4 linked regions of the Homo sapiens genome follow. The protein of the gene in region 1 interacts with the protein of each later gene in a pairwise test. Each region holds a gene or a part of one and is shown in the gene's direction. Other genes may lie near its edges. The genes, in order: NEIL2, MEOX1, REL and HOMEZ.

What was found.
Region 2: the proteins of NEIL2 (region 1) and MEOX1 interact in binary tests that used the Homo sapiens proteins (3 or more experiments, as listed by UniProt).
Region 3: the proteins of NEIL2 (region 1) and REL interact in binary tests that used the Homo sapiens proteins (3 or more experiments, as listed by UniProt).
Region 4: the proteins of NEIL2 (region 1) and HOMEZ interact in a two-hybrid assay, tested with the Homo sapiens proteins (one large-scale study listed by BioGRID).

Annotation. Positions count from the first base shown.
Region 1 is NC_000008.11:11,783,210-11,787,459, forward strand, and holds the end of NEIL2 (endonuclease 8-like 2), read left to right. Parts: coding exon 1-190; intron 191-2,753; coding exon 2,754-3,064; 3' UTR 3,065-4,136; downstream 4,137-4,250. UniProt on the Homo sapiens protein: Involved in base excision repair of DNA damaged by oxidation or by mutagenic agents. Has DNA glycosylase activity towards 5-hydroxyuracil and other oxidized derivatives of cytosine with a preference for mismatched double-stranded DNA (DNA bubbles).
Region 2 is NC_000017.11:43,637,339-43,644,939, reverse strand, and holds the end of MEOX1 (homeobox protein MOX-1), read left to right. Parts: intron 1-1,279; coding exon 1,280-1,452; coding exon of another isoform or gene 1,453-1,463; intron 1,464-2,907; coding exon 2,908-3,030; 3' UTR 3,031-4,551; downstream 4,552-7,601. UniProt on the Homo sapiens protein: Mesodermal transcription factor that plays a key role in somitogenesis and is specifically required for sclerotome development. Required for maintenance of the sclerotome polarity and formation of the cranio-cervical joints.
Region 3 is NC_000002.12:60,907,490-60,916,073, forward strand, and holds part of REL (proto-oncogene c-Rel), read left to right. Parts: intron 1-8,584. UniProt on the Homo sapiens protein: Proto-oncogene that may play a role in differentiation and lymphopoiesis.
Region 4 is NC_000014.9:23,269,771-23,279,065, reverse strand, and holds the end of HOMEZ (homeobox and leucine zipper protein Homez), read left to right. Parts: intron 1-1,878; coding exon 1,879-3,491; 3' UTR 3,492-6,174; coding exon of another isoform or gene 6,175-6,243; 3' UTR 6,244-6,644; downstream 6,645-9,295. Other genes in the region: E3 ubiquitin-protein ligase RNF212B, read right to left, coding at 6,175-6,243, 8,405-8,466, 9,106-9,203. UniProt on the Homo sapiens protein: May function as a transcriptional regulator.

The DNA of each region.
Region 1 (4,250 bases):
CTGCACTTTGGTGGTGGTGGCTTCCTGGCATTTTATAATTGTCAGTTGTCTTGGAGCTCTTCCCCAGTGGTCACACCCACCTGTGACATCCTGTCTGAGAAGTTCCATCGAGGACAAGCCTTAGAAGCTCTAGGCCAGGCTCAGCCTGTCTGCTATACACTGCTGGACCAGAGATACTTCTCAGGGCTAGGTATGACTCATGGGAAAGGGGTGAGTCCACAGAGTTGCTTCATGGAAAAGTCGGTCCTGTGGGAGTCAGAAGACCTGAGGGCCACCCTAGTTGTGCCAGTGCTGTTGGTTTTGAGGTGCCACTTGCTCAATCTCCTTTCTTTTACTTCCCTTGTTTTTAGACTGAGGGCATTAGATCAGGCAGTTTTTAACTTGTCTCTCTGCTTCAGAATCCACACCCTAACTGTGTTATCAGTTGTGAGCCCTCTGCCAGCAGCGTTGGAGCATCACCTCCTAAAGGGTGGGGTCATGTCTCCGGCACCTCTGTACCCTCCACTGCACAGTGCAGCGCCTGCACGTAGGAGGTGCCTGACCTGTGTCTGTAGGAACTGAAGTCGTGCAGGCTGCTAACAGAGCAGTGAGCGCGTGTTCTAAGGGATGCTGCTCTTGGGTGGATGGAGCTTCCTGCCCTGGCCAGGGCACAGAGATGACTCAGTCTACACTGGGTTCTTATGCGACGCGAGTGAAGAAGCTGTTTCCCTCTCTCTATTGCAGTGGCGTGAGCAGTGAAACTGTGAGCATTTCAGGATAGGGAGAAGTGCTGAACAATTTCAAAAATACATATAACAGCTAATTAGCGGGACTATGACAGCGTGGCGTTCTTATTACTCACAGTAGGGGAATAATTGTGCCCAAAATTGGTTGCTGAAGCAATCAGGCAGGTTGGTGGTGACAGAGTCATCTCCATATCCAACATGTGGCCTTGCTGCCTGCTCACCACCCTTCACGAGGGTCGGAGGAGGCCAGGTGGTACAGCAGGCACTTGCCTTGCATTTTCATGTTAGGACCATGGGAGTCCCTGTGCACTCAGGAGCGAAGAGCCGTCGGAAGTGGCTTTTTGGGTATATATGGCAAGAGCTAACAGTAACAGTAGTAATTAATAACGGCCAGTGTTTTCCAAGCAGCTCTGATGTGCCAGGCACATGTTCTTGTCCTTACTGCTGTCCTGTAGGATGGTTATAGTGCTTTTCCCTTCCTTCAGATGAGGAAACTGAAGCAGAGAACACATCGCTAGTAAATGGTGCAGCTGAGATGTGAATCCAGGTGTTTTGTCAATGAATTCTGGAGAGACTGATGTGTGTAATGAGGAGTGTGACTATGAGGCTCTTGGAAACAGCAGGAATTTCCTTCACCCACTCACTCCAAACACACAGACACTCACTTGAGCTCTGTCACGCTCACCACCTCTCCTTAAGGAGATCATTGTATAATGGCCCAGCAAGCATGGACTCAGTCCACTGTGGGTTACTAAAGATTGCAATGAATGCCTGGTGGAGCTGAAAGAGTATGGTTGGAACATTCCCAAGAGAGTTACTGATTCTGGAAGGAGGGATCGAGGCTGGCTTCACAGAGAATGAGGCAGGAGTAGAAAAATAATAAGATAACAGCTCCCGAAACACTTTCTACATAACAAGCATTATGCTTGGTATTTCATTTATTTTATTTTTTGACACAGGGTCTCTCTCTGTCACCCAGGCCAGAGTGCAGTGGCACAATCACAACCCACTGCAGCCTCAACCTCTGTGGCTCAAGCGATCCTCCCACCTTAGCCTCCTGAGTAGGTGAGACTACAGGTGCATGACATCACGCCTCACTAATTTTTAAAATTTTTGTAGAGACAAGAAGCTCTCACTGTGTTGCCCAGGCTGGTCTTGAACTTGTGGGCTTAAATGATCCTCCTGCCTCTGCCTCCCAAAGTGCTGGGATTACAGGCGTGTGCCACTGTGCCTAGCTATGCTTGACATTTTGTTTTTAATTTAAAAAAAAATTTTTTTTGAGACAGGGTCTTGCCATGTTGCCCAGGCTGGAGTGCAGTGGCACAATCTCAGATTACTGCAAGCCCCACCTCCCAGGTTTAAGCTAGTCTCCTACCTCAGCCACCTGAGTAGCTGCGATTACAGGCAGGTGCCACCATGCCTGGCTAATTTTTGTATTTTTGGTAGAGATGGGGTTTCACCATGTTGTCCAGGCTGATCTTGAACTCCTGGCCTCAAGTGATTCACCCGCCTCTGCCTCCTAAAGTGCTGGGATTACAGGAATGCGCCAGGCCAACATTTTAAATAATAACAACAGTTAATACTTATTGAGTACTCTACATACCAGCCACTGTGCTCAGCGTCTTTTGGTGAATTCTCATTTAATGCTCACAAAAACCAGGTAAGCCATCCCTGCCTTACAGATAAGGAAACTGCAGCTAATTGAGGCTGAGGAGCTTGTCAGGGTCACGTGGGTAGGATCTGCTTGAGCTGCGATTCAAGTGCAGGCAGTCAGATGCCCGATCCGTTTTTGATAGCCTGTTTGCCATGACGGGCCATGCATGAGTTTCATTTCATCTTCACAGCAACCTTAAAGGTAGGAATTGTCAACTCCATTTTACAGACAGAGAAATGGAGTCAGAGATCGCAGACCCGTCTAGGGTCCCCCAGGACATGGAAGAGCTGATTTCTGCCTTGTTAACTTTGTGGGTGGTTTCATCATGCCATGTGTCCTTTGTCCTTCCCTTACCTTCCCCCGCTTTATTTCAGGGAACATCATTAAGAATGAAGCCTTGTACAGAGCTGGGATCCATCCCCTTTCTCTCGGTTCAGTCCTGAGTGCCTCGCGTCGGGAGGTCCTGGTGGATCACGTGGTGGAGTTCAGTACAGCCTGGCTGCAGGGCAAGTTCCAAGGCAGACCGCAGCACACACAGGTCTACCAGAAAGAACAGTGCCCTGCTGGCCACCAGGTCATGAAGGAGGCGTTTGGGCCCGAAGATGGGTTACAGAGGCTCACCTGGTGGTGCCCGCAGTGCCAGCCCCAGTTGTCAGAGGAGCCAGAGCAGTGCCAGTTCTCCTAAGGAGCTGGTGGTGCTCCTCACGGAACCTTGCCGCTTGGGGAACCTGACGTCTAAGTGTCCAGAAAGGAGGATGTGGGCAGGGACGGGGTACAGAGGATAGTGTGGGTCAGAGGTGCCAGTAGTATAATATTCGTCTCCCTGGAGTTATGTTGAAGGCAGAGTTTTCATAGGGTTAGATTTTTTTTATCCTTTTCTAGTTCAGTTAATTCATCCTGTTGAATTGCACCATCGTGAAAGATGGGAAAAATCGTGATGATGGGTAAGGGGAAAACTTCCCGGAAGGCAATGGGGCAAGGAAAAAGAAAGCCTATGGGAAATGGCTGTGCTCCCAACATAGCTTTGCAGATGATGTGGGTTTTTTTTTTTTTTTTGGTTGTTTGTTTTGAGAGAGAGTCTTGCTCTGTCTCCCTGGCTAGGGTGTGGTGGTGTGATCTTGGCTCACGGCAGCCTTGCCCTCCCTGGCTCAAGCAGTCTTCATCTCAGCCTCCAGAGTAGCTGGGACTACAGGCATGTGATATGATGCTCGGCTGATTTTTGTTTACTTTTTAGAGAGATGGGGTCTTGCCATATTTGCCAGGCTGGTTTGAACTCCTACAACTCAAGCATTCCTCCCACCTTGGTCTCCCAAAATGTTGGGACCACGGGTGTGAGCCACCGCGCCCAGCTAGCTCCTGTGTTTTGTTTTTGTTTTGTAACTTTGGTTGATGTTAAGGCCCTCCATTTTGGAAAGCAGGAAAACAGGATTTTTTTTTTTTTATCTTGTTCCCTGGAGGATCCAGGGATGAGGATAGAGTGGCCTGAGAGCAGTGCTTGGATTCAGCCTCCTGCTGGGTCCTTCTGCTGGATACAGGCACCAAGAGGCGGTCGTGGAGCAGGGAGCTGCGCCTTCCTGGGGTGCCCGGTGGTGTGTAGAGAAAAGCTGCTTGTTTACTCCTTAAGTCAATGTATTGGTGACTGTTGATTTGTTGAACAATTCAGGAATCAAGGGCTGTGGAGAAACTCCCTCATGTTGTTGGCAACAGGTGAATGAACCTAGAGCGGTGACATGAAAATAAAGCTCACTGTTACTCGCTGTTTTTGTCTTTATTTGGTAGTAAAAGGTCTTTAAATACCCAACTATTCATGGAGGTGGCCTCCAGGGCTTACTGGGTTAGCTGAGGAATCTACATAAAAGTAGCAGTGAGAG
Region 2 (7,601 bases), on another chromosome or scaffold:
AAGCCCTTCCTAAATTTTTTTTTCAAGACGTAGTCTTGCTCTGTCGCCCAGGCTGGAGTGCAATGGCGTGATCTCCGCTCACTGTAGCCTCCGCCTCCTGGGTTCAAGCGATTCTCCTGCCTCAGCCTCCCAAGTAGTTGGGATTACAGGGGCGTGCCACCGCGCCCAGCTAATTTTTTGTATTTTTAGTAGAGACGGGGGTTTCGCCATGTTGGCCAGGCTGGTCTCGAGCTCCTGACCTCGTGATCCGCCCGCCTTGGCCTCCCAAAGTGCTGGGATGAGCCACCGCGCCTGGCCCCTACATACTTTTCATTTGAACAGTATGTGTGTGTCAAATCGCCTGAATTTAATTCTTGTCTCCCACACCCCCTGGCTGAATAAACTTGGGCAATTTGCTTAACTTCTCTGTGTTCGTTTTCTGGTCCATAAAGTGATACTAATACTAGAACCACTTGGTTGGGCTATTGAGGAATAAGAGGCTAATATATGTCAGGTACAGCACCTGGCACAGAGTGTGTCCCCTGACCCTGTTGGCAGTTATGACTGAGCCCCGCTGAATCTAACATGCAGCCTGCTTCAGAGGGCTCCAGATGGCTTTCCAGACTTGGCCCTCTGGGGCAGATTCTGATTCCGTAGGTAGGTCTGGGGCAGGCCTGAGATCCTTCAGGTCTGAACAGCTCCCTGGTGCTACTGATGCTGCTGGCACCCAGGCACTCCTTTGAGTGGTGAGGTCTTAGAGCAGCGGACTTGACTGTGCACCAGACGCATCTGGAGGGTTTGTAAAAATAGATTGCTGAGTGCCATCCCCAGAGTTTCTGACTTAGTAGGTCTGGAATGAGGCTAGGATTTGCATTTGTAACAAGCTCTCAGGTAATGCTGATGCTGCTGATCTGGGGACCATAGTTTGAGGCTTTGTTTTAGAGCATCTCACCCCTCAAGCTTATGGCCACCAGTAATGTCATGCTGGGGGGTGGGCTGGGGAGTAGAGGTCATTAAACAGCCAAGAGTAGCTTCTTATGCTTTGGGAATAAAAGAAAGTTTGGGGTGGGGGGAGGGTGGGAGGCAGGTACCTGAGATTGGAAACCAAAAATAAAAAATCTTCCCAATTCTAATATGGGTAAGACACCAGAAGGAATAAAAAGGACAGTGTAGCTTTTTTCTCAGCATCCTGTAAAAATAAGGGAGACTGGTAAAGACTGCCTAGTTGCTCAAGGGCAAAAGAAAGGGAATGGAGTCTCCCTCAGCCCATGTCTTCCTGTTTGGGGTCCTCTCTCCCCAGACAACCAGGAGAACAGAGGGAAGCCGGAGGGCAGCAGCAAAGCCCGCAAGGAGAGGACGGCCTTCACCAAGGAGCAGCTGCGAGAGCTGGAGGCAGAGTTTGCCCATCATAACTACCTGACTCGGCTCCGCAGATATGAGATTGCGGTAAACCTGGACCTCTCTGAGCGCCAGGTGCGCCCCCGGTGGGCCCCTCCTCTTCTTTGCTCTCTCATCTCCCTCCCTTCCCTCCTTTCCCACCACCCCTCCCTGGACCTTCTCCTTTTTCTTCCTCCAGCCAGTCCAGCGGTTTTCAACTGTGGCCACACCTGAGAATAGCCTGGGGAGTTTTGGGTTTTTTTGTTTTTTGTTTTTTGAGACGGAGTCTCGTTCTGTCGCCCAGGCTGGAGTGCAGTGGCGCGATCTTACTGTAACCTCCACCTCCTGGGTTCAAGCAATTCTCCTGCCTTAGCCTCCCAAGTAGCTGGGCTACTGGCGTGCGCCACCACGCCCGGCTAATTTTTGTTTTTTTTTTTAGTAGAGGCGGGGTTTCACCATGTTGGCCAGGATGGTCTCAAACTCCTGACCTCAGGTGATCCGCCCGCCTCGGCCTCCCAAAGTGCTGGGATTACAGGCGTGAGCCACTGCGCCCGGCCCCTGGGGAGATTTTAATAGTGCTGATGTCTGGGCTCCACCCCTAGGGATGATTTTAATTGGCCTAGGATGGGATACAGGCCTCAGAATTTTTCAAAGGCCCCCTAGGTGATTCTCACATGCAGCTAGGTTGGGACCTACGGTCTGGCTATTCCCAAATTTGAGTATATGTTGGAATCCCCCAAGGCACTTGTTCAAAATGTGGATTCTGGAGGTCCGGAGAGAGATTTTACCATAATGAGTGGGCCTGAGAATCTGTATTTCTAGTACATTCTCCAGGTGATCTGGATATGCAGCTGGTTCCTGGGCACACTTTGAGAAAAACTTCCCTGGCCCTTTGTTTTGGACTTTCCCTTCAGCCACCCCACACCCCCACACCCATGCTCTGATACGGAATAATAGTAATAATAACCGTAATATTTGATAGCAGATTTCAGTTGACAGAGCACTCTGCCAGAGGGCTGGATATTGAATCAGAAGACTTAGATTCAAATCCTGCCTCTATCACTTTTCCTAGCCCTGGGACCTCTGGGTCTCCATCTGTAAAATGGGATCATAATCCTGCAGGTAATACTCAAGCTCAGATGAGAAAATGTGCTTACCAGAGCTATCTAAACCAAAAAGTGCTCTATAAATGTGCCTAAGGATAAGGCTGATGACCTCTGCTCCCAGACCCTTGGGGAATGGAGGTAGGGGGCAGGGGGACCTGGCACAGGCAGGGCAGGGCATGTGAAGGGGGTGGGGCCAATGCAGAGTGCTTTTAGAACATGTTCCCCCGTCTGGGGCTTTATCCGAAGCCACAAGACAGACCTCTGGGCAGATTGGTATGTCCTCTCTTCGGTCCTAGTTCCTGGGGCCTTTGAGGGAGTAGGGAGTGGTAAGTGATGGTTTCAAGCTGGGGTCCCTGGAGTTACACCCTGGCTAGCCTAAGCATTGACATGGGGAGGAGGTCACACCGGCCCTGGAGTGACCAGGCTCCTTTGCTTCCTCCCCCAGGTCAAAGTGTGGTTCCAGAACCGAAGGATGAAGTGGAAGCGTGTGAAGGGAGGTCAGCCCATCTCCCCCAATGGGCAGGACCCTGAGGATGGGGACTCCACAGCCTCTCCAAGTTCAGAGTGAGATTCTGCATGGAGGAAAAATGACTAAGGACTGAGCCCCCTACCCAACTACCCCCACCCCAATCCCACCTTCACCCTCTTCCTTCCCCAGCCAGGGCAGCCTCTCCACATCTTTCCCTGACTCTTGGATATGAAACTGCCCAGCATTCCTGGGAGTCTTAGGATTTTCTAGGAAGTTCTGTCCAGCCTCTTAGCAGCCTCTTCCCTAGGGCCTTTGCTCCCACACTCTCATGGAATCAGACAGAGATCCTACCGGGCCGGATGAATCTGGAAACAGCTTCAGAGATACTGCTTCTCAGCGTCTCTTGGCTGCCACCCATGCCTCCTCCTACCGCTGTTCTCCTAGGTCAGCCAGGCCTCCTCCTGGTCTGGACACCACCTGGCCTGGTGGGAGAGGAGCTTTGGAACCAGCTGGCGACTCGGAAAGTAAATGCTTCAAAAGGAAGGAAATGACAGAGACACACGCCCTTGCCCACCTTCCTCTGTAGGCTGCACATCTGAGGCTTTGGGGCCCCTTAGTTGTCCCGAAACCCCAAGAAAAATCAGAATGAGGAGAGTCAAGGACAGCAACTCAGCTGCTGCAAGCCAGAAACACATCCCTGTCTCCAAATTTGTTGGCTAAGTGGAGACACTTCTGAGAACTGACTAGAGAAGACAGAAAAATAGCCCGATGTAGGTTTCGGTGTCCCCATATAGGCCCGTCCACACAGGCTTGACTGGGTGGACAAGAATGAACCCATGACAGCACCTGCTGCTTCAAAATCAAAATCAATTTAGGGATACAGCAGGGGCTGTTGGGCTGTGCTCCAGAGAAAAGGAGCAGCTACTCCTTTTAAATCCACGATTTCTGGATTGAAAACCTGTCCAGATGCTGAGTTGTTGGGCTGAACAACTAGGAGCTGAAAACAACGTAGAGGCTGGAAAGTGTCCCCTGCATTCTGGAGGGGAGGGGAGATAATAAGGAGGGCTGCTGGGTGAGGGCCTGGAGATGTGGAACCCTGGAGTGGAAGGTTCTCCAGTGACAGTGTCCTGTGACTGCAAAAGGGGACAAGAAAATCCCTCTTCCTCCATGGGATGGATTTAAGCTCTTGCTGTGTGTTCTACAAATGCTGTTATTGTGGGAGGAAATGCTAGGTTTTTGTGTGTGGACTGCCCAGACCTCAGCCAGGTCTTCTGGAGATGACATTTGAGGACTGATGGCCAAAGAGCATGGGGGACTGAAGCCCTGGCTGCCTCAGCGCTCTGTCTCCCAACACCAGCTGGTGTTGCAGAGGGAGGTCAACGTGAGTTTGGATCTCTTGTACGCAGATGTAATCATTCACATGTAAAAATAACCCCACCTCCCCACCCCAAAAAGGGCAAGAGCTGTGGAAAATGATTGCCAAATGAGATGGCTGGTTAGAGCATGATTTTTTCTAAAGCATACTTCATATATTTTCTTAAGATTACATCAAGCTAATTGTGCGAGCTCAATTCACTTTGTAAGAAAACTCTCGGAGAAATAAAATCAATAAAAAGCAAAGTTCCCAGGCCTTTTTCTTTGCAGAGCGAACAACCACAGCTCTTGTGTGCAACCTTCTGATTGACCAGACAATGTCTAGAAGCAAGAGAAAAAGGGAAGAAATGATCTAGACAGAGCTGTCCCCCTTTAGTTTTTCAAAAGGTGGGTACAAAATATAATTGGTGCCAAAAAAAAATTTTTCTCCAATGCAAATGCATGGTCTTCATTTCTCATTGTAAAAGTTTAGCTTTCAGTTTCCCTAAACTATGACCTATCAAATAGTCAATGTTTTATAAACAAAAGATGAACTCTTTTGTTAATAAAGGAATCTTGACCACAAAGTAACCATCCCTAATGTTTAAATTCAAAGTTTGGAGATTTTATTTTTCAAGGTAGAAAAATGTATATTAATAGTAGTAAAAAATGACATAAGAAAAAATATCCCATATTTTGTCTTTTTTTTTTTTTTTTTTTTGAGACAGAGTTTCGCTCTTGTTGCCCAGGCTGGAGAGCAATGTCTTGGCTCACTGCAACCTCCACCTCTTGGGTTCTCCTGCCTCAGCCTCCTGAGTAGCTGGGATTACGGCCATGTGCCACCACGCCCAGCTAATTTTTGTATTTTTAGTAGAGATGGGGTTTCTCCATGTTGGCCAGGCTGGTCTCCAGCTCCTGACCTCAGGTGATCCACCCGCTTTGGCCTCCCAAAGAGCTGAGGTTACAGGCCTGAGCCACCACGCCTGGCCTCTATGTCTTTTTAACTAAAAAACAATTTGTCTCACCAAGATGTCAACAATGGACAAAACAGGACTGGCTACGGTGAGGGGAGAGAGGGAGGCAGGAGGGGAGACCTGGCCAGGATCTTGCAATGAGGCAGCCTGGGCCAGGTGTGGGCAGTGCCTGGAAGTGACATCACCAGGACCTGGAATCAGGCAGACCCACCAAAATGAAGGTGCCAAATGGAAGTGGGTTCAGTGGCTCAGGTTCAGGTTCACAGCCAAGCAACATGGACACGCTCAGTCACCCCCGTCCACCCTCCTGCTGGAAACTCAACTCTGTGGCTTCAGGGGACATCACCCTCTTCTGGCTTTCCTCATCTGTCCTAGATGTTCCTTCTCTGTCCCCCATGCAAGCCCCTTTCTCGATGCTTCTGCTCTCACAGCTGGTTCTCAAGGTTTTCTCTTTCTTCCGCCACCTTCCCTATTTTTCAATCTCTCCCCAGATGATCCCATCCACCTACTTTTTTTGTTTGTTTGTTTTTTGGGACAGTCTCGCTCTGTCGCCCAGGCTGGAGTGCAGTGGCGTGATCTTGGCTCACCACAAACTCTGCCTCCCGGGTTCAAGCGATTCTCCTGCCTCAGCCTCCTGAGTAGCTGGGATATGGCTAATTTTTGTATTTTTAGTAGAGATGGGGTTTCACCATGTTGGCCAGGTTGGTCTCAAACTCCTGACCTCAGGTGATCCTCCCGCCTCAGCCTCCCAAAGCGCTGGGATTACAGGCATGAGCCACCACGCCCGGCCTATGTTTTTTTAAATTGTTGTAAAATACTCTAACATAAAATAAAAGTTATCATTTTAACCGTTTTGAAGTGCACGGTCCCGTGGCATTAAACATTTTCTCATTGTTGTGCAGCCATTGCCACTATCCATCTCCAGAACGTTTTCATCTTCCCAAACTGAGACCCTTTGCCTATGGAACACTAACCCCTATCCCCTCCCCTTCATTCACCTGCATTTACATAGTGTTTGCGCCATATTGAGCACTGTTCCGCTTTACATGTACAAACTAAGTGAATTCTCTTAGCCATCCTAAGAGGTAGTACTACCGTCATTCCCATTTCACACATGAGGTAACCAAGGCGGAGAGAAGCTGAGTAAACTCCCAAGGTTTTATGGTGGTTAGTGTTTGGGGTGGATTGTATTATTGGGCCTGGTTATCTTCTTCCCTCTCCACTGGGGAACATGCCTCCCTGATCATTGCCATATGATGCACCTGCCGCGGTAAGGGCACACTTCCTCACCTAATTGACATCAGCTTGTCCTTGTGGCCTGCTTTGGCCAATAGAATGTGAGCAGAAGGATATGTGCTGTATCCAAGCAGAAGCTTTACGGGTCATCACACGGCTGTACTCCTGCTCTTTTCCCTCTGTACGAGGCTGAAATGGAGGATCCCTAGGTTCCAGAAGGAGAAAAACATGGAACAAAGCCAAAGCTGACCCCATAGCCTTCACAGATGTCAGTGAGGATATAAACATTTGTTGCTGTAAGCCACTGGGATTTGTGGGTCACGAGCTCGTGAAAACTGACCACTCCAGTGATGAAGCTGGGTTTGGAATTGACGCATTCTGGCCCCAGGCCAACACTTCCTATGCCTGATCTGGGTGCCTAAGCTTTTCTATTCTGCTGCCTACTGCCCTTTGCCACCTAGGATGACTATAAGCATCTCAAACTCCGATATCTGAAGGGGAAATCGCCATTCCCGCAGTTGGGTGAGCACCACTGCCTGCATTCTGATTCTTCTACTTTAGCTGGCAACACCACAACCTACCTGTTCATTCACACTGGAAACCTGGGGCACATCGTCATACAGACCTCTGCTTTTCCGAACCAATCCACTACCTGGGCCTGCTCATTTTACTTCCCACATAGATACTTCTCCCACCCACGGCATTGTCTTCCCACCACCACTGCCTTCCTTCTGGCTGCTGATGTCTCACTTGAATTAGAGCCTCTGAGAGCTCTCCCTCCTGATCTGAGGCTGCTCAAATCCCATCCCCTCTCAGCCTGTAGAGTGATCACAAAAAAAAATTCAACCCTGTCACCCCCAATTTAAAACCTATCGGTAGCTTTCCTCACCTACAAAATAAAGAGCCTTCACAGGTCTCCATGATCCAGCCCCTGACCACCTCCACAGCCGCAACCTACCACCTCCGCCACAAATCCTGGGCTCTAGCAAGACCAAGCCACCTTCCATTCCACAGCCATAGGCCATGTGATTTCTCCATTCCTTGGCTCATTCCCTTCTGTCTGGAGTGCTCTCCCACACCTGGAGCCCCAAGGACTTATGGATTCTA
Region 3 (8,584 bases), on another chromosome or scaffold:
GCTGGGCATGGGTGCGTGCTGCAAGTCCCAGCCTGCTCCAGAGGCTGAGGTAGGAGGATCACTTGAGCCTATCAGGCTGGGTTGCAGTGAGCCCAGATTGTGCCACTGCACTTCAGCCTGGGTGACAGTGAGACCCCGTATCAAAAAAACAAACAAACTAAAACGGTTGAAAGAATAAATGGACGAACATGTCATATTTGTACTTTTCTTTTTTTTTTTTTTACGGAGTCTCGCTCTGTTGCCCAGGCTGGAGTGCAGTGGTGTGATCTCGGCTCACTGCAAGCTCTGTCTCCCAGGTTCACACCATTCTCCTGCCTCAGCCTCCCGAGTAGCTAGGACTACAGGTGCCCGCCACCATGCCCAGCTAATTTTTTTGTATTTTTTAGTAGAGACAGGGTTCCACCGTGTTAGCCAGGATGGCCTCGGTCTCCTGATCTCGTGTTCCGTCCACCTCGGCCTCCCAAAGTGCTGGGATTACAGGCTTGAGCCACCACGCCCCGCCTTATTTGTACTTTTCTACCAAAAATATCACAGTTGTTTTCCTTACCTGAGATGCCCTGAAAGCCTTCTCAGTTCTCTTAAGTCTGAGATAACATCTTCCTAATTATACGGTATACTCAGCAATTAATCATTGAAAGTTTTGTGTTATCTGTTAGATCATTTGATTCTTCAGGAATTTTCTTAAAATATTAATTTCATGCTACTTGTGGACAGGGTCTGTGATGGAATCTTGTTTCCATTTCACTTTGGCACCTAAACAATGTATTTGTTTTACTGTTATCTCTATCTTCTCAGCTAAGTGCCTTGAGCTATTGAGTTTCCTACCTGCACACAATAGATTCCCCAACTAGTGTGTTTTAAGGCCGGCCTTTATCTTTCTTGCCATTTGTTCTTTAAAACTAAGAAACAGTCTCTAGCAAACGGGGCATAAAGCAGTCTAATACTGTCAAATTTGAGGCTTCAAGTAAAGGATTATTCAAATTGTCTAATTGCCAAAGTCTAAATTGGGTGAGGAATTTAATTAGGGACTCCAATATCAGATTTTAACAGTGTTTACTTAGCTAGAACAAGAGTGGCAGTTAGACTTTGTAGAGGACTCTTAACTGCAAAAGCTGAAAAAAATTTGTAATTATATATCATTTTCTAGTTATGTACTTTGGTAATGAAATGTTAGGATTTCTAGTATGCGGCAGTTAAACTCCATAGAATATCTAAACTGTATATTAAATTTTGTGCAATAAAATTGATTTTGACAATAAAGAATTTGCAATTAAGTTTTATTAGGTAGTTTACTGTTTTCCCATGTAGAGAATCTTGAGTTGTTATGAGAGTAAAAGGCTGCTATACAGTTGAGTTTGGGAAAACTACATTACTTAGTAGTCTGAAAGGGAATACAGTTTAATAAGTAGTCTAACATAGATTCTTATCTCTAAAGTCTGGTCTAATACAAGAAAAAGCCTTTCCTTACAACTGAAAACTTAAAGTTTGAAAAAATGGCTCATGTGTACTTCATTGTCCTTTCTTTATTGCAGTCAGAGTTTTCGAAGCCTTTTTTTCATTACCCTAGGCAGAACTTGTGTACTTTCTTGCTTTCAGTATTCCTTGAGCATATTTCCATTATAAAGTTTTTCATGTTGTATTATATAATTTTAGTTTATGTATCTATTTCTCATCCAGATACTCATCTCACTAAGGTCAGGCATTGTCTTTTCAAATTTGTATCTAACACTTTACTATGGTAGCACATAATAGATACTCAATAAGTATGTTGAAAGGTTGAGTAAATTAATGATATACTTCTAGTATACTTCTAGCACCTTTACTGTTTGCCTGGCACATGAACACTTAAATGTCAACTTTTATTATTATACATAGGGGATACTTTATATACTTTTTAAGTAACAAAAATGTAAATTAATTATAACTAAATTTTATATTTTTCCTTAAGTGAGACTTAGTTCATTTTTTTTTTTTCTATTATTTGTAGAGACAGGGTCTCCGTATGTTGCCCAGGCTGGTCTTGAACTCCTGGGCTTAAGTGATCCTCCTGCCTCGGTTTCCAAAAGTGCTGAGATTACAGGCATGAGCCACCATGCCCGACTGAGACATAGTTCTTAAAATTGTTATTCCAGGCTGGGCGCAGTGGCTCACGCCTGTAATCCCAGCACTTTGGGAGGCCGAGATGGGCGGATCACGAGGTCAAGAGATACAGACCATCCTGGCCAACATAATGAAACCCTATCTCTACTAAAAATACAAAAATTAGCTGGGCATGGTGGCGTGCACCTCTAGTCCTAGCTACTTGGGAGGCTGAGGCAGGAGGAGAATCAGTTGAACCAGGAGGCGGGGGTTGCAGTCAGCTGAGATGGCGCCACTGCACTCCAGCCTGGCGACAGAGCAAGACTCCATCTCAAAAAAAATAAAATTATTATTCCATATGCTGTGTATTTTTGCCTTGTTATTTATTTTTATTTCAGTAGTGTTTGACAGTATTAGAATTTTAGAAATGTTACACTTCTAGAGCTAGTAGACATAATTGATTTTTAAAATTTAATTCCTGCTTATGAAAAATATAGCATGATAATATCTTCTTGGTTAAGAATGAAATTCTCATTACACACCTACTGATTTTAGGGTTAAAGGAGTGATATTTCTTTCTAAAGGTAGATTAAACATTTAACATAAAAAGGAAGGGGCTGGGCACGGTGGCTCACACCTGTAATCCCAGCACTTTGGGAGGCTGAGGTGCGCAGATCACGAGTTCAGGAGATCAAGACCATCCTGGCTAACAGGGTGAAACTCCGTCTCTACTAAAAATACAAAAAATTAGCCGGGCATGGTGGCGGGCGCCTGTAGTCCCAGCTACTCGGGAGGCTGAGACGGGAGAATGGCGTGAACCCGGGAGGCGGAGCTTGCAGGGAGCCAAGCTCACATCACTGCACTCCAGCCTGGGTGACAGAGTGAGACTCCATCTCAAAAAAAAAACAAAAAACAAAAAAAAAAAAAACATAAAAAGGAAGGAGAACAGGAGAACAGTTATTACCTTATATTTTGACTAACTACAAAGTGAAATTTTAAACTAGTTTAAGAGGAATTTGAGAGAAGTCGATTGGTCTCATGCTTCCTTCCGTTAGTTTCTGCAAATGTTAAAACTGAGTATCAGGCCAGGCACGGCCACTCACACCTGTAATCCCAACACTGGGGGCCCAAGGTGGGTGGATCACTTGAGGTCAGGAGTTCCAGACCACCTTGGCCAACATGGTGAAACCCCGTCTCTACTAAAAATACAAAACTTAGCCAGGCATGGTGGTGCATGCCTGTAATCCTAGCTGCTTGGGAGGCTGAGGCGTTAGAATCTCTTGAACCCTGGAGGCAGAGGCTGCAGTGAGCCAAGATCACAACACTGCACTCTAACCTGGGCGACAGAGTGAGACTCTGTCTCAAACAAAACAAACAAAACTGAGTATCAATTTTGACATTACAGAATAAAACACTGCATTTTGTATTATAGAATGATATGTATCTATTAAAATGCCTACAGCAAGCATTATCCTAAATAAGAGAAATATCAGAAACATTCGCTTTGAAGTTAAGAATGAGAAACCAAGGCACACTTTTACCACTTGTATTCAACATCGTAGTGAAGGTCATAGCCAGAGCAGTGAGCATTGTAGCCAGTGTACAGTAAGACCCCCCAAAAAGTAGAGGCATAGGATTGAAAAATGAGGAAATAAAACTATAATTATTTGAAATTATTATAGTGATAACCCAAAAGATATATAAATGGATTATTTAGATAAGTTTAAAAGAGTGAGCTTTGTGCATTGGCAGTATAGCCAAGTGAGGTTTATCTTAGGAGTGGTTATTGTTAATTGAAAACTTTTTCCTAATATCCTGCTGTCATGACTTGCAGTATAGTCAGCATTGGCAATTTTTGACAGTCTTTTTGGAGACTGAATAAAAAATAAAGTTTAAAAGGGTTAGTGGATGTAAAATTAATATATAAAGGTCAGTCATATTTCCATATCTCAGCAGCAAATAACTGGAAAACATCATTAAAACAAATATTGTCAGGAGATATGAAGTATGTAGAAACAAATCAAAGAAATGATAAGATTTCTTTAGGGAAAATTATAAAATTTTATTATGAGATCTTAGAGAATACTTAAATAAATGGAGAGGTATTCCGTGTTCTCTAATAGTAATATTGTAAAAATGTCATTTTCCCAGGCCGGGCGTGGTAGCTCACACCTGTAATCCCAGCACTTTGGGAGGCCGAGGCGGGCGGATCACAAGGTCAAGAGGTTGAGACCATCCTGGCCAAGATGATGAAACCCCATCTCTACTTAAAATACAAAATTAGCTGGGCGTGGTGGCACAGGCCTGTAGTCCCAGCTACTCGGGAGGCTGAGGCAGGAGAATCACTTGAACCCGGGAGGCGGAGGTTGCAGTGAGCTGAGATCGTGCCACTGCACTCCAGCCTGGGCAAAGAGCAAGACTGTCTCAAAAAAAAAAAAAAAAAAAAAAAAAGTCATTTTCCCCCAATTGATAAGTAGATTCAATGCAACTCCATATTAAATGTGATAATTCTAAACAGGAACAGAATATAGAAAAAGAACAATGAGGAGAAATTGACCTCATCAGATAGAAGTATTAATACTAATTAAGGCAGTGTCATATTGGGATAAGAATAGATAGATTGACTCATTGGAGTAGAATTGAGAGCCCAGAAGAGACTCCAATCACCTGTGACCCTGAACTGGAATAATTGGGTAAATCATTATCTTAACTTGTTTTTATTAATCTTTCTTAAATGTATGTATAGCTCAGATTTATTTCAATATTTAATATTGCAAGCGTTTTGGTCTTATAAATTTAGTGATGTTTTTGTGACCCATAGTCTGCCGTAGAAACTTAACTCTTATTAATATTGATTAGCCTATGGTAAAATTGGTTTTATTATGGTGTTGTTTCGCTTGAAGTTGCAATTTCCAAGAACCTATAGACATCATCCTAGAAGACATTAAGTGAAGACTTACTGTGTATATAAGCAGATTTGAAATTAAAAATATAAAAGATCTTCTGAAGTTGCAACAGTGCTCAGAAGTATTATAAAATAGAAATAAATCATTTCCAAAAGAGAGATTTCATTTTTGCCCAAAATCTTTCTTCTAAGCTATAAAAGACAAAACTGTTCAATACACAGTTTTGTCAATTTAAATCTACATATTCACCCAATTTTTATAAGATAAAATAAAAATGTATAATTATTGAAAAAAGAATTGAGAGCCCAGAAACAGAGCTAAGGAAATATGCGACTTTAGTGTATGACAGAGGTGGCATGTCATATCAAGAGGAAAGGAGGAAATGTTTGAGAAATGAAGCTTGAAAAAAAAATAGTTATTTAATTAAGTCGGATTCCCTACCTCACATCATATACAAATATCAGCTGAAGATGGATTAAAGGCTTTAAAAGTGAATCAACATTTTAAAAACTTTTGGTAGACTATGTTGGTAAACATTTTAATCCTTGAGGTATAAAAAGACAAGACACAAAGTGTTTTCTATAAAACTTTTGATAAATTTGATTATATTCTTAATTTCAATTTATTATATTTTTCAGTTCTAGAATTTGATTCCTTTTTTTCAGTTTCAAGTTCTCCAGTAAACTCTCAATCTTAATTCCTTGAATATATTAAGTATAGTTACTTTAAATTATATGTCTGAAAACTTCATTATTTGGATCCTTTGTGGTATGTTTTTATTGCCTGTTGCTTTCTTTTAAAAAAAAATTTTTTATTTTGCCTCCTCATATGTGTGGTTATTTAAGATAAAATACCAGTCATTTTCTGTGAAAAAGAGTAAAGATTTTAGGCCTACAATATTATCTCCCTGCAGAAAATTTTCTTCTGGCTAGTGGCCGGGTACACTAGCAATCCCAGGTCACCTAAAATCAGTGAATGATTTAGGTTATTTGAAGTTGGGCTTTCATCCCTGAAATCTGATATGTTTCCAGTTCACCCTTACTCCTAGGGTATAGCTCTTTCAGACCTCAAATCCCCCAAAGCCTTGGGTATTTATCAGATCCCACATCCTTGGCAAACTCTCAACTCCTTTATTTTTTCCCTATAGTTTATTGAGAGTTCATCTCAATCTTCTTAACCATCTCTTAGAAAATTGTCAGGCTATATTCAGATAAAAGTGGCCTCTCATTCTGAACTGTGGGTTTTCTTCTCTCATATCTTGGTCGCATGGTTTTTCATGACCTTGTTAGCTCTCTAATGTCATTAGAGAAATTTTGTTTCATATTTTGTCCACTTTATTCTCATGGTTGAATTGGTCCAGTTTACAGATTATCATCTATCATTACCAAAGTAGAACTTCTTTTTATTAACGTTTACTTTATGCTTTCTTCAGTAACTTGTAAAAGTATCTAAATGTTTGGTTGTTCAATAGGACTTTAAGTAATTCTTCAGTCATTTATGTTAATTGAGAAAATGTATAATAAATATCACTACTAGGTTCAACACCTAGTGGAGATACATCAGACATCCCTTCTGACTTCATTTGAAACTTTGTCTAATAGGATAGAAGAGGCATACATAAATGATTATCATGTAAGATTTTAAAACTTTTAAGGGCATAAGAAAGGTATAGGTCAAGTCTTGCACTGATTTAGAGAGGAGAAATATTCCCTCCATTGCAGAGGATGAAGTTAGGCTTTATAGAAAAGAAGCTTTGAGCTGGGGTTTCAGCCTTACACTGAATCTTGCATTGGGTAAAAACGGGTATCTGTCATGATTCTTGCCTGTCAGTAGTTTTTAACCATGTTGTGCAGAGATGAAAGTAATTCTGATGCAGTAGTAATTGTATTTCCACACATTGAGAAGATTCAAAGCAAAATCTCATAAACAGTGATTTTTTTTGAGAAGTAAGTAGAATTTCTTCCCTGTAGTAGAACTATTATGTGACTAAATGTTTTTGAACTTTGGCTTATTGACCAGTTTGTTTATTTTTCTTTTATGTGCCATTTAAAAATATTTAAAATAAACTTTTATTGAGATACAATAAAATCTACCCGAATATGTCCTGCTACATAACCACAATCAAGCTATGGAACATTTCCATCACCCCCTAAAATTTCCCTGGTCCCCTTCTCGCTCAGTTCCCTACCCTGCCTCTGCCTCAGGCAATTACTAATCTGCCTTCTGTCACTGGAGATTAATCTTTTCTAAAACTGCATGTAAATGGAAGCATACAGTATACTTTTGTATCTGGTTTCTTTTGCTCAACATGGTTTTGAGATACATTCATTTGGGAGTGTATACCCATAGCTTGTTTTTTTGTTTTTTTTTTTTTTTTGAGATGGAGTCTTGCTCTGTCGCCCAGGCTGGAGTGCAGTGGCACAATTTCGGCTCACTGCAAGCTCTGCCTCTCGGGTTCACCATTCTCCTGCCTCAGCCTCCCAAGTAGCTGGGATTATAGGCGCCCGCCACCACGCCTGGCTAATTTTTTGTATTTTTAGTAGAGGCGGGGTTTCACCGTGTTAGCCAGGATGGTCTCGATCTCCCAACCTCATGATCCACCCACCTCGGCCTCCCAAAGTGCTGGGATTACAGGTGTGAGCCACCACGCCTGGCCAGTTTGTTCTCTTTTATTGCTGAGTTTATTCCATTGTAGGTCTATACCACACTTTGTTTATCCATTCACAGAGTTCACATAGGTTTGTTTTTAAACTTACCAGGAACATCTAGCTACAAATTTATCTTTTTTGCATATTGATTACTCATCTTTGCAATTGAGAGACACTAATATCTTGAATGCTACATTTATAATGCTGTAAAAATGGATTTTGAAGAGGTAGCTCTCATATTGCCTACACAATAGTGCCAGTAGAGTATGCTGCTGTAACACAAGTGTTGGTATCATAACATTTTGACCTTTCAGTTGTACAGAGTACAGATGTGTTTTTATGCACTGTTTCAAAGATTAAGCATAAGAATGCTAATACTGGGATACTTATAAATGTTGTGATAGCTAAGTAGACTCTCAATGTCATTAAATAAAAACAGTACAAAATACATTATCAGTTTTATTAGTTATTGCCTGTAAAATAAGGAATTTGGGCTTAACTATGTTTCTAAATTTAGTGTTTCAAAATTTAATACTTTGCAAAGTAAAATTGTTATGTAAATAATGTGCATGTCTTGCTTTTTAAAAATATGACTTATTGCTATAGCTTATGGCATTTGAAAAGGCAATATTTTCTTTTGGAACTGGATTTCTGGTTCAAATACTAATTTAACAAACTATTATACTATATTCTATCATGAGCTTTTCTAGTTTTATAGAACTGTAAAATTTTTAATTAAAACATTTTTTAAGTTTGCACGTAAAATTTCTTATGGAAACTAGCTATCTTAACATTTTTTTGTTTCTTGGTATTTCATCCTTAAAATGTTGATCCACATTTAGTAGATACTCTTGTGTATGTCATTTTTATGTACAACACATGTACAATTTTCTAATAGATTTCAATTTTTAAAAGCATAGGCTCTAAATTTAATGACTTGAGTTCACATTT
Region 4 (9,295 bases), on another chromosome or scaffold:
GTTGCAGTGAGCCAAGATCACGCCACTGCACTCCAGCCTGGGTGACAGAAAGACTCTGTCTCAAAAAAAAAAATAGTTATTAACAATTCTGGCCAGGCGCCGTGGCTCACGCCTGTAATCCCAGCACTTTGGGAGGCCGAGGCCGGTGGATCACTTGAGGTCAGGAGTTCGGGACCAGCCTGGTTAACATGGTAAAACCTCGTCTCTACTAAAAATACAAAATGTAGCAGGGCATGGTGGCACACGCCTGTAGTCCCAGCTATTCAGGAGGCTGAGGCACAAGAATCACTTGAACCCAGGAGGCGGAGGCTGCAGTAAGCTGAGATCATGCCACTCTACTCCAGTCTAGGCAACAGAGCAAGATCCTGCTCAAAAACAAACAAACAAACAAACAATTCTGAGGGCCGGGTACAGTGGCTCACTCCAGTAATCTCAGCAGTTTGGGAGGCTGAGGTGGGAGGATCACTTGAGGCTAGGAGTTTGAGACCAGCCTAGGCCACATAGTGAGACCCTGTCTACAAAAAATTTTAAAATTAGCCGGATATGGCTGCATGTACCTGTAGTCCTAGCTACTTGGGAGGCTGAGGTGGGAGGATTGCTTGAGCCTAAGAGTTCAAAGCTGCAATGAGCCATGATCATGCCACTGCACTCCAGCCTAGGCAACAGAGTGAGACCCTGTCTCTTGAAAAAACAAAAACAAAAATGCACACACACACAAACCAGTTGAAATTATTGCTCCTCTTGTTTTTGTGGTTGAGTCTTCACTATGTGATTCTTGTTCCATGAATTTAGAAGGTGAGAGTTGGTGGATAGCTTCTAGAAGTGGGTTTGAATAGGAAAGATAAAGGCTGTATCAGAGCTATGATGGTGCCACTGCACTCCAGCCTGGGTGGCCTGGGTGACAGAGCAATATTATCTCTTTAAAAAAAAACAACCCACCAGCTGGGTGTGGTGACTCATGCCTGTAATTCCAGCTTTGGGAGGCCAGAGGCAGGTGGATCACGAGGTCAGGAGTTCAAGACCAGCCTGGCCAAGACGGTGAAACCCCATCTCTACTAAAAATACAAAAAGTAGCCGGGCGTGGTGGCGGGCACCTGTAATCCCAGCTACTCGGGAGGCTGAGGTAGAGAATTGCTTGAACCTGGGAGGTGGAGGTTGCAGTGAGCCAAGATCATGCCACTGCACTCCAGCCTGGGCGAGAGAGTGAGACTCCATCTCAAAACACACGCACACACACACAGACACACACATACACACTAAAAAAAGCTATATCAGGATCAGTTTTCCTTCTTAACTTCTAAAGACAGATTTTTTTTTTTTTTGATAGGGTCTCACTCTATCACCCAGGCTGGAGTGCAGTGGTGCAATCATAGCTCACTGCAGCCTCAACCTCTCAGGCTCAAGCAGTCCTCCTGCCTCAGCCTCCCAAGTAGTTGGGACGACAGGCACGAACCACCATGCCCAGCTGATTTTTAAATTTTTTGTAGTCTCACTGTGTTGCCCAGGCTGGTATCAAAGCTCTGGGCTCAAGCAATCCTCCCACCTCGGCCTCCCGAAGTGCTGGGATTACAGGCATGAGCCACCATGGCTGGCTTTAAAGACAGATTTTTTTCTTGGAACAACACTCACCAGTCATGTGGCTTGGGGTAATTTAACGTCTATGGACTTTGGTCCACAGAAAATGGGAATTAAAGCAGGGTCTGATGACTTAAGTTTATGAAAATTAAATAAGAAATTGTTGAGGCACTTAAAAAGCAATACAACATGATACAAATACAGATTAAATTGTTCTGGTGTCCAGCAGTTAGTTTGGTAGAAATTGAGCAGTGTGTCAGAAGAGGAGACCCAGTGATTGAGCTGTTTGTCTTCTTATTGCAGCTATCTCTGAAGGGCACAAATCAGAAGGCACCATGCCTCCTAATAAAGAGGCCAGCGGTCTCAGTAGTTCACCAGCGGGGCTCATCTGCCTCCCTCCAATCTCTGAGGAGCTACAGCTTGTGTGGACGCAAGCAGCCCAGACCAGTGAGCTAGACAGCAATGAACACCTGCTCAAAACCTTCAGCTACTTTCCCTATCCCAGCCTAGCAGACATTGCCCTTCTCTGCCTACGTTATGGGTTGCAGATGGAGAAAGTCAAGACTTGGTTTATGGCCCAGCGCCTCCGCTGTGGTATTAGCTGGTCATCTGAAGAAATAGAAGAGACTCGAGCCCGAGTAGTCTACCGTCGGGACCAACTCCATTTCAAATCCCTTCTCTCTTTTACTCATCATGCGGGACGGCCCCCAGAGGAGGTGCCTCCTCCTCCAGTGCCAGCTCCAGAGCAAGTTGGTATTGGAATAGGTCCTCCAACTCTTAGCAAGCCTACCCAGACGAAAGGATTGAAGGTAGAGCCTGAGGAGCCCTCTCAGATGCCACCACTGCCACAGAGTCACCAGAAATTAAAGGAGTCCCTGATGACACCTGGCAGTGGAGCATTCCCCTACCAATCAGATTTTTGGCAACATCTTCAAAGCAGTGGCCTCTCAAAGGAGCAGGCAGGCAGGGGTCCCAACCAGTCACATGGCATAGGTACTGCTTCCTGGAACCACTCCACAACCGTCCCCCAGCCACAAGCTCGGGATAAACCCCCACCAATTGCATTAATTGCCAGTAGTTGTAAGGAGGAGTCAGCATCTAGTGTTACTCCCTCTTCTTCCTCTACCTCTTCTTCTTTCCAGGTACTGGCTAATGGAGCTACTGCCGCCTCTAAACCCCTCCAGCCACTAGGCTGTGTCCCACAGTCAGTGTCACCCAGTGAACAGGCATTACCCCCACATCTGGAACCAGCCTGGCCCCAAGGGCTACGGCATAACTCAGTACCAGGTAGAGTTGGCCCCACAGAGTACCTTTCCCCAGATATGCAACGCCAGCGAAAGACCAAGCGCAAAACCAAAGAGCAGCTGGCTATCCTTAAATCCTTTTTTTTACAGTGCCAGTGGGCACGGCGTGAGGATTACCAAAAGTTAGAACAGATCACTGGTTTACCTCGGCCTGAGATCATTCAGTGGTTTGGTGACACACGCTATGCCTTGAAGCATGGGCAACTAAAGTGGTTTCGGGACAACGCAGTACCTGGTGCCCCTAGTTTCCAAGACCCAGCAATTCCTACACCACCACCATCAACCCGCTCCTTGAACGAAAGGGCTGAGACACCACCTCTGCCGATCCCTCCACCCCCACCGGATATACAACCCTTGGAGAGGTACTGGGCAGCCCACCAACAGCTACGGGAAACTGATATCCCTCAATTGAGTCAGGCATCAAGGCTTAGCACCCAGCAGGTGCTGGATTGGTTTGACTCTCGATTACCTCAGCCAGCTGAGGTGGTAGTTTGTCTAGATGAAGAAGAGGAAGAGGAGGAGGAAGAACTGCCAGAAGATGATGAGGAAGAGGAGGAGGAGGAGGAGGAAGATGATGATGATGATGATGATGATGTGATCATACAAGACTGAGTGGGGAGCTGGGGGAGGGGAGGTCTGTTACTGAAAGATGAACCAACTTAGTAACTGTTTAAACAAAGAAACCACATTTTTAAAATTACCTTGTGGCAGAGAACTAAAAAGCTTTGTGTTCTTCAGGGTGGGTGGCAGGGGGATATAGTGAGGGTGGACCAGGGAGAATGACCATAGGGCACTAAGTAAGGCTGGGATTGGATCAGCAGAAATCCAACCCTCTAACCTTAGGGTAGGGAGTGCTAAGGATCTGGGGAAACCATGGGCTGGGAAGCTGCTCTTGCTCTCCTCGTGTCTGCTGTTTTTTTCCCTTGGTGTACTATACAGAGGCCAGATGTTGGCACCACCTCTCCAGGAGGATTGGAAAGGAGGAGTAAAGGATTCTGATTTGATTGATGATTCCAGTGCATCCCCAATCCCACCATCTTACCTGGAATATAAGGCTGCCTTGTACCCCTTTTCTGAGCACAAGTCTGTGCGTAATGCAACTGACTCTCTTACTTTTTTCTTAGTAACTGATCATTTCCTAGACAACCAAGATTCTCAATAAGTCCCAGTCTCATCACAAATATTAATATTTCCTTTTCCTCATACCAACTTGACTATGTTTCACCCGCTTCATGACTAAATCACAGGTGGCAGAATTTTTCAGTTCTTTTTTTTTTTTTTGAGGTGGAGTCTTGCTCTGTCGCCCAGGCTGTAGTGCAATGGCGCAATCTCAGCTCACTGCAAGCTCCGCCTCCCAGGTTCATGCCATTCTCCTGCCTCAGCCTCCCGAGTAGCTGGGACTACAGGCACCTGCCACCACACCCGGCTACTTTTTTATATTTTTAGTAGAGACGGGTTTCATCATGTTAGCCAGGATGGTCTTGATCTCCTGACCTCATGATCCGCCCACCTTGGCCTCCCAAAGTGCTGGGATTATAGGCATGAGCCACCGTGCCCGGCTATTTTCAGTTCTTATGCTGTGACCACTTTGCCTTGTAGCTTTTTCTATCTTTCCAAAATCCTCACTCTGTTCATTGTTTGTCTCAGGGAAAATCTTCCCCCACCGAGCTTGTAAAAAACTTTAATAATTGGGTGGAGAATAATTTAGAATGGATATTTATTGGAGGTGGTAATTAGGGAAGATGTCCTTTTAAACAGTAGAATTGTGTTACAAAGGGGTGAAAGAGAGGGAATAGTTTCTCCTTGTTGAAGGGCAGTGAAGGTAGGTTTCAGGTTTGGTTTTACAAACCTGTTAACTACCTCCTGTCCAGCTTGACAGAGACTAATTTTTCATCTTTTTGCTGTCAATTTGTTTCCAGAAAAGAGACTTTTCCCTCTCTTGATAGGATCTGTCTTAGGGACAGAGGGACCATCGTCTTTAAGTGAATTAATTATTGATGTTTTAGAATGGTTTTCATCAGTTGGGATCAGCTATATGGCAAATAGGTATCATCAATGAGTTAACCATCTAAAAATAAAAGAGTGGAAGCCCTAAAATGCTAGAATAATAATAAAAAGGCCAAAAATAAAATTGTTTCTCTCTCAACCACTTTGCCACTCCTATGGTTTAGGGATTAATGGAACCAAATCCATTAACATTCTAACTCAGCATACTTTTAACTTATTGTTTGGAGGGGCAGGACTTATTGAGGTAAATTAAAAGAACAAAAACTGTAAAAAGGAAGTAGTTCAGCATCTATCGCCAGCCAGGTTGTTTCTCAGCCATCAAATGATAATGACTAAAATTTCTGAGGCTTCAGGAGTAACAGAGATACAACAGTCTTGGAGGTAACTCCATTTGCTACAGGACAGGCCCTTGCCTAAAAGAGAAGGTATCTAGAAATGCCTTTAAAATAAATTCAGAGTACCAGAAAGGGTATGGGGATCCTAGTTCAGATACAAGATCATTCCCAAGACCTAATTTATTTCTGGCAGATGCCTGCTATTTTCTGTTTTTCCAGTATTTTTGCTTAAGGCCAGCTTGTGAGTGGCTAACCTATTTAATTCGTCATTTCTGCCTTTTAAAACCCAAAGTAGAATACATGTTTGATCTCAGTGATAGTGTTGTTCGCCCATTCCACCATTCTAGAGCTTGTAAAAGTGATAGAATTGTAGCAATAAAAGGGCATCGTCTTTATTTTACTATCTATATACTAAGCTGAAAATCAGTGTCTCCAACAGTTGTTTTCAATAGAAAGGAAAATTAACATTTAATAGTAACTAAGCATAGAGGAAATAATAGACAAATAAAAAAGTATAATAAGGAAAAGAACAGAGATATTGCTCGTTAACATTGGCAATGGGACAGTATATCCAAAGCTAAAAATGAAATCCAGAAATGAAACAGTGATGAGTATATGATCCATCACAATCCCCATTCCCAACTCCCAACCAAGCATGATGCCAAGAATTATTTTTTTGACCTTTGTTCCAAATTGTAGGAAATGAGGGGAGCTACCAGTGTCTTCTGGAAGAGATATAAACATCTTCCTGAAGCACTAGCCTTTTGTAAGACCTGACCACTGTCCTGGGAGGTGATAAGGGTGAATAGGGTAAAGATGGGGGGAGCATAAGGTACAGAGTGAAACTAGGAAACAATGCAGGGATACATTTTCCAGGGCCATCACCCCTAATGCGTACTGGAAGCTACAGTCCATCCTTCAGCAGCATGTATAGATCAGATCTTGAAGATGATCTATCTAGAAGTGGTCCATGCTTCTCTCCCACTGGGTAATCCCATATGCCTCCGTTGTTGGTAGAGAGTCTGCAGCAGAGGACAAGAAGGTAGATGTGGGTGTTTATAACAGCAAAAAGGGCAAGCAAGTCTCTCTGACCTGTTGTATGAAGCTTATCGAGACAGACACCACTGCTTTTGCTTCCCCATAGTTTTCTTCATTGCATGATAACTAACTTTTCCAAACTAGGATTTGCTACATCTAGTGTGACAATCTCTGGAACATTTCAGTAGCTTATGGTGATAATAATAAGGATGAATATTTGAAAATTAAACTATTTTGGAAAATCTGGGACATATGACTACCACACCCAGAGATGACTACCAGGGAGGCAGAGTTCTTAGGCCTCTGAGGAGGTGGCATTTCCTTCAATAACTTTAAAATTTTTTCACATTTTCGGTTGTTTGTTTGTTTGTTTGTTTGTTGTTTTTTTGAGATGGAGTCTCGCTCTGTCACCCAGGCTGGAGTGCAGTGGTGCATCTCCGCTTACTGCAAGCTCCGCCTCCCGGGTTCACGCCATTCTCCTGCCTCAGCCTCCCACGTAGCTGGGACTACAGGCGCCCGCCACCATGCCCGGCTAATTTTTTGTACTTTTTTTAGTATAGACGGGGTTTCACCATGTTAGCCAGGATGGTCTCGATCTCCTGACCTCATAATCCGCCCGCCTCGGCCTCCCAAAGTGCTGGGATTACAGGCATGAGCCACCACGCCTGGCCCACATTTTCAAAAAATACATAGAATAGTATAATGAACTCATGTGCCCATTGTCCATCTTTAACAAATAATTAATGGCCAATCTTTTATTTCTACTCTCCCAGTGTCCCTCCCTACTAAATTACACTGATGCAAACGCCAGACATCATTTGACTTTCCATCCATAAATACTTTAGTATGTACCTATAAAAGAGAAAGGCTATTTTTAAAAACATAACTACGATATCATCATACCAAAAAACTCTCCAATGTTAACAATTATTTAATATCAAATGTCCAATAGATAATTTTGTTCAACTGTCTCATGAATTGTTTTATTTATTTTTTTTACAGCTTGTTTCAGTCAAGATCCAATTAGGGGCCATATATTTGTAGACGGTTTATAGAGCTTTTAAGTCTTTTTTCATCTTAGGTTAATCCCTCCATTTGAGGATTTTAGGGAGGAATGTTACTTCCCCAGTGTTGCCTCTTAAGGCTTAGACCCTAATTTCTTACTGATGAAAATAAAGGGCATCTTGGAATATGGGAGCAAAATATATACTTATCTTAGTATGAAGGAACTGTGCCTAGGGACACCAGGAGCTTGGAGTGAAAAAGGAGCCTAAATATGCTCAAAACCCAAGCCATTAAAAAAAACAAACAAAAAAAGGCAAGACTGGACTTTTATTTTTTTCTTTCTTTTTCTTTTTTTTTTTGAGATGGAGTCTCACTCTGCTGCCCAGGCTGGAGTGCAGTGGCGCAATCTCGGCTCACTGCAAGCTCCGCCTCCTGGGTTCAAGCAATTCTCCTGTCTCAGCCTCTCATGTAGCTGAGATTACAGGCACCCGCCACCACACCTGGCTAATTTTTGTATTTTCAGTAGAGAGAGACGGGGTTTTACCATATTGGTCAGGCTGGTCTCTAACTCCTGACCTCAGGTTATCCACCTGCCTCGGCCTCCCAAAGTGCTGGGATTACTGGCATGTACCACCGCCCCCGGTGACTTTTCATTTAATAGAACTCTTTACAAACCTCTCCTTGTTACCATGCCCTTTACCTTTTGTTGCTGGAATCAGAATCATAGTCCCATAAATTTATAAAATATTATTCTAGCGGTCTCTGGAGAAGTAAATGTGGTTTTTCCTAGTTCAAGTAGTACCCCTACCCAAAAGATGTATTTCATAGAAAATACTTTCTTGTGGAACTACTGAAGATGTCCATGTGTCCACACTTACTTCACGCTGGCCAAGACCTCTCAGTTTAAAGCCTCCCACTACCATGTGACCTCATTTTAAAACCCCAAACCAGGAAGCTAATCTAACAGTAGGATAAAATCTGAAATTGAGACCATTCTGGAAGATTGTGAACATATAGTTACCAGAGTTGAAACCCATGTCGTTCTTCACTGGTTATATTCCACTACCCTGAGGCATTTAGTGTGCAGGCCTAACCATGTGAGATTTTATGCACAGACAAGTTAGACTAGCCAGGTCTCACCTGCAGGACTGGTAGCTGGAAACTAGGAAGACTCTCTAGTGTAGTTGTGCTCTCCCTCTGAGCTGAAGGATAGAATGGAACAGTGAAAGATAACTTACTTGGGCAGTTTCTCGGCAGTGTTACTTGTGGGTCAGGGTAATGAGGTAGTTCTTAAAGGAACACTACTCAGAAGGGAAACACAATCAGCAATTTAAGAGATGGGATATAAAGTCTGTTCTTTTCCTGTGAGGACCAGGTACTGGCAGAGAGGTCTGAGATTTAACTATGAGTGGGAAAATAGCCAATATAAATATTTAGGTGAGCTATGGAAGATGGCAGCCTCTTAGCAAGAGGACTGGTGGTACCACCTTTACTGAAAAAGATGGGGAGAAGAATGGATATTGGCCTTATAATCCTCAGAACTGAGCGCCCAGCATTTTCAATATAGGGACTTTTGAGAAGCCAGTTTAATCCTATAGGCCAACCTTCTGGCTAAATAGTAGGACTCGACTGGTGACAGGATGAGTGCTAACCAGGCAAAATCCAGAGTTTCCCTTCACTCTGAAGAAAATGGGATGGCTCTTAAAGAATATTAAGGAGCCAACTAGAGACAATGCTCTTTGGGGGGCAAACCTCAACATCTTGTCATCTTGAAAATCTTCATTTTAGTATATGTGTCTATAGTTGAAGCTCCATTCCTTTGGAAATGTTATTTAACTTACCAAAATTGTTGGGGGTGAGGACTCTTGTGTGGCCTGAATGCCCATTTGGGGATGGTCTGAAAGAAAAAATCCCCTGTCCAGAGGAGGCAGATGAAGTTCTAAGGAAAGCAAATAAAAGCATCAGCAGAGAAAAGGACAGGTAAAGGTAAAAATAAAAAGCATATGTAATGGAAGAGCCTATACAGCTAGG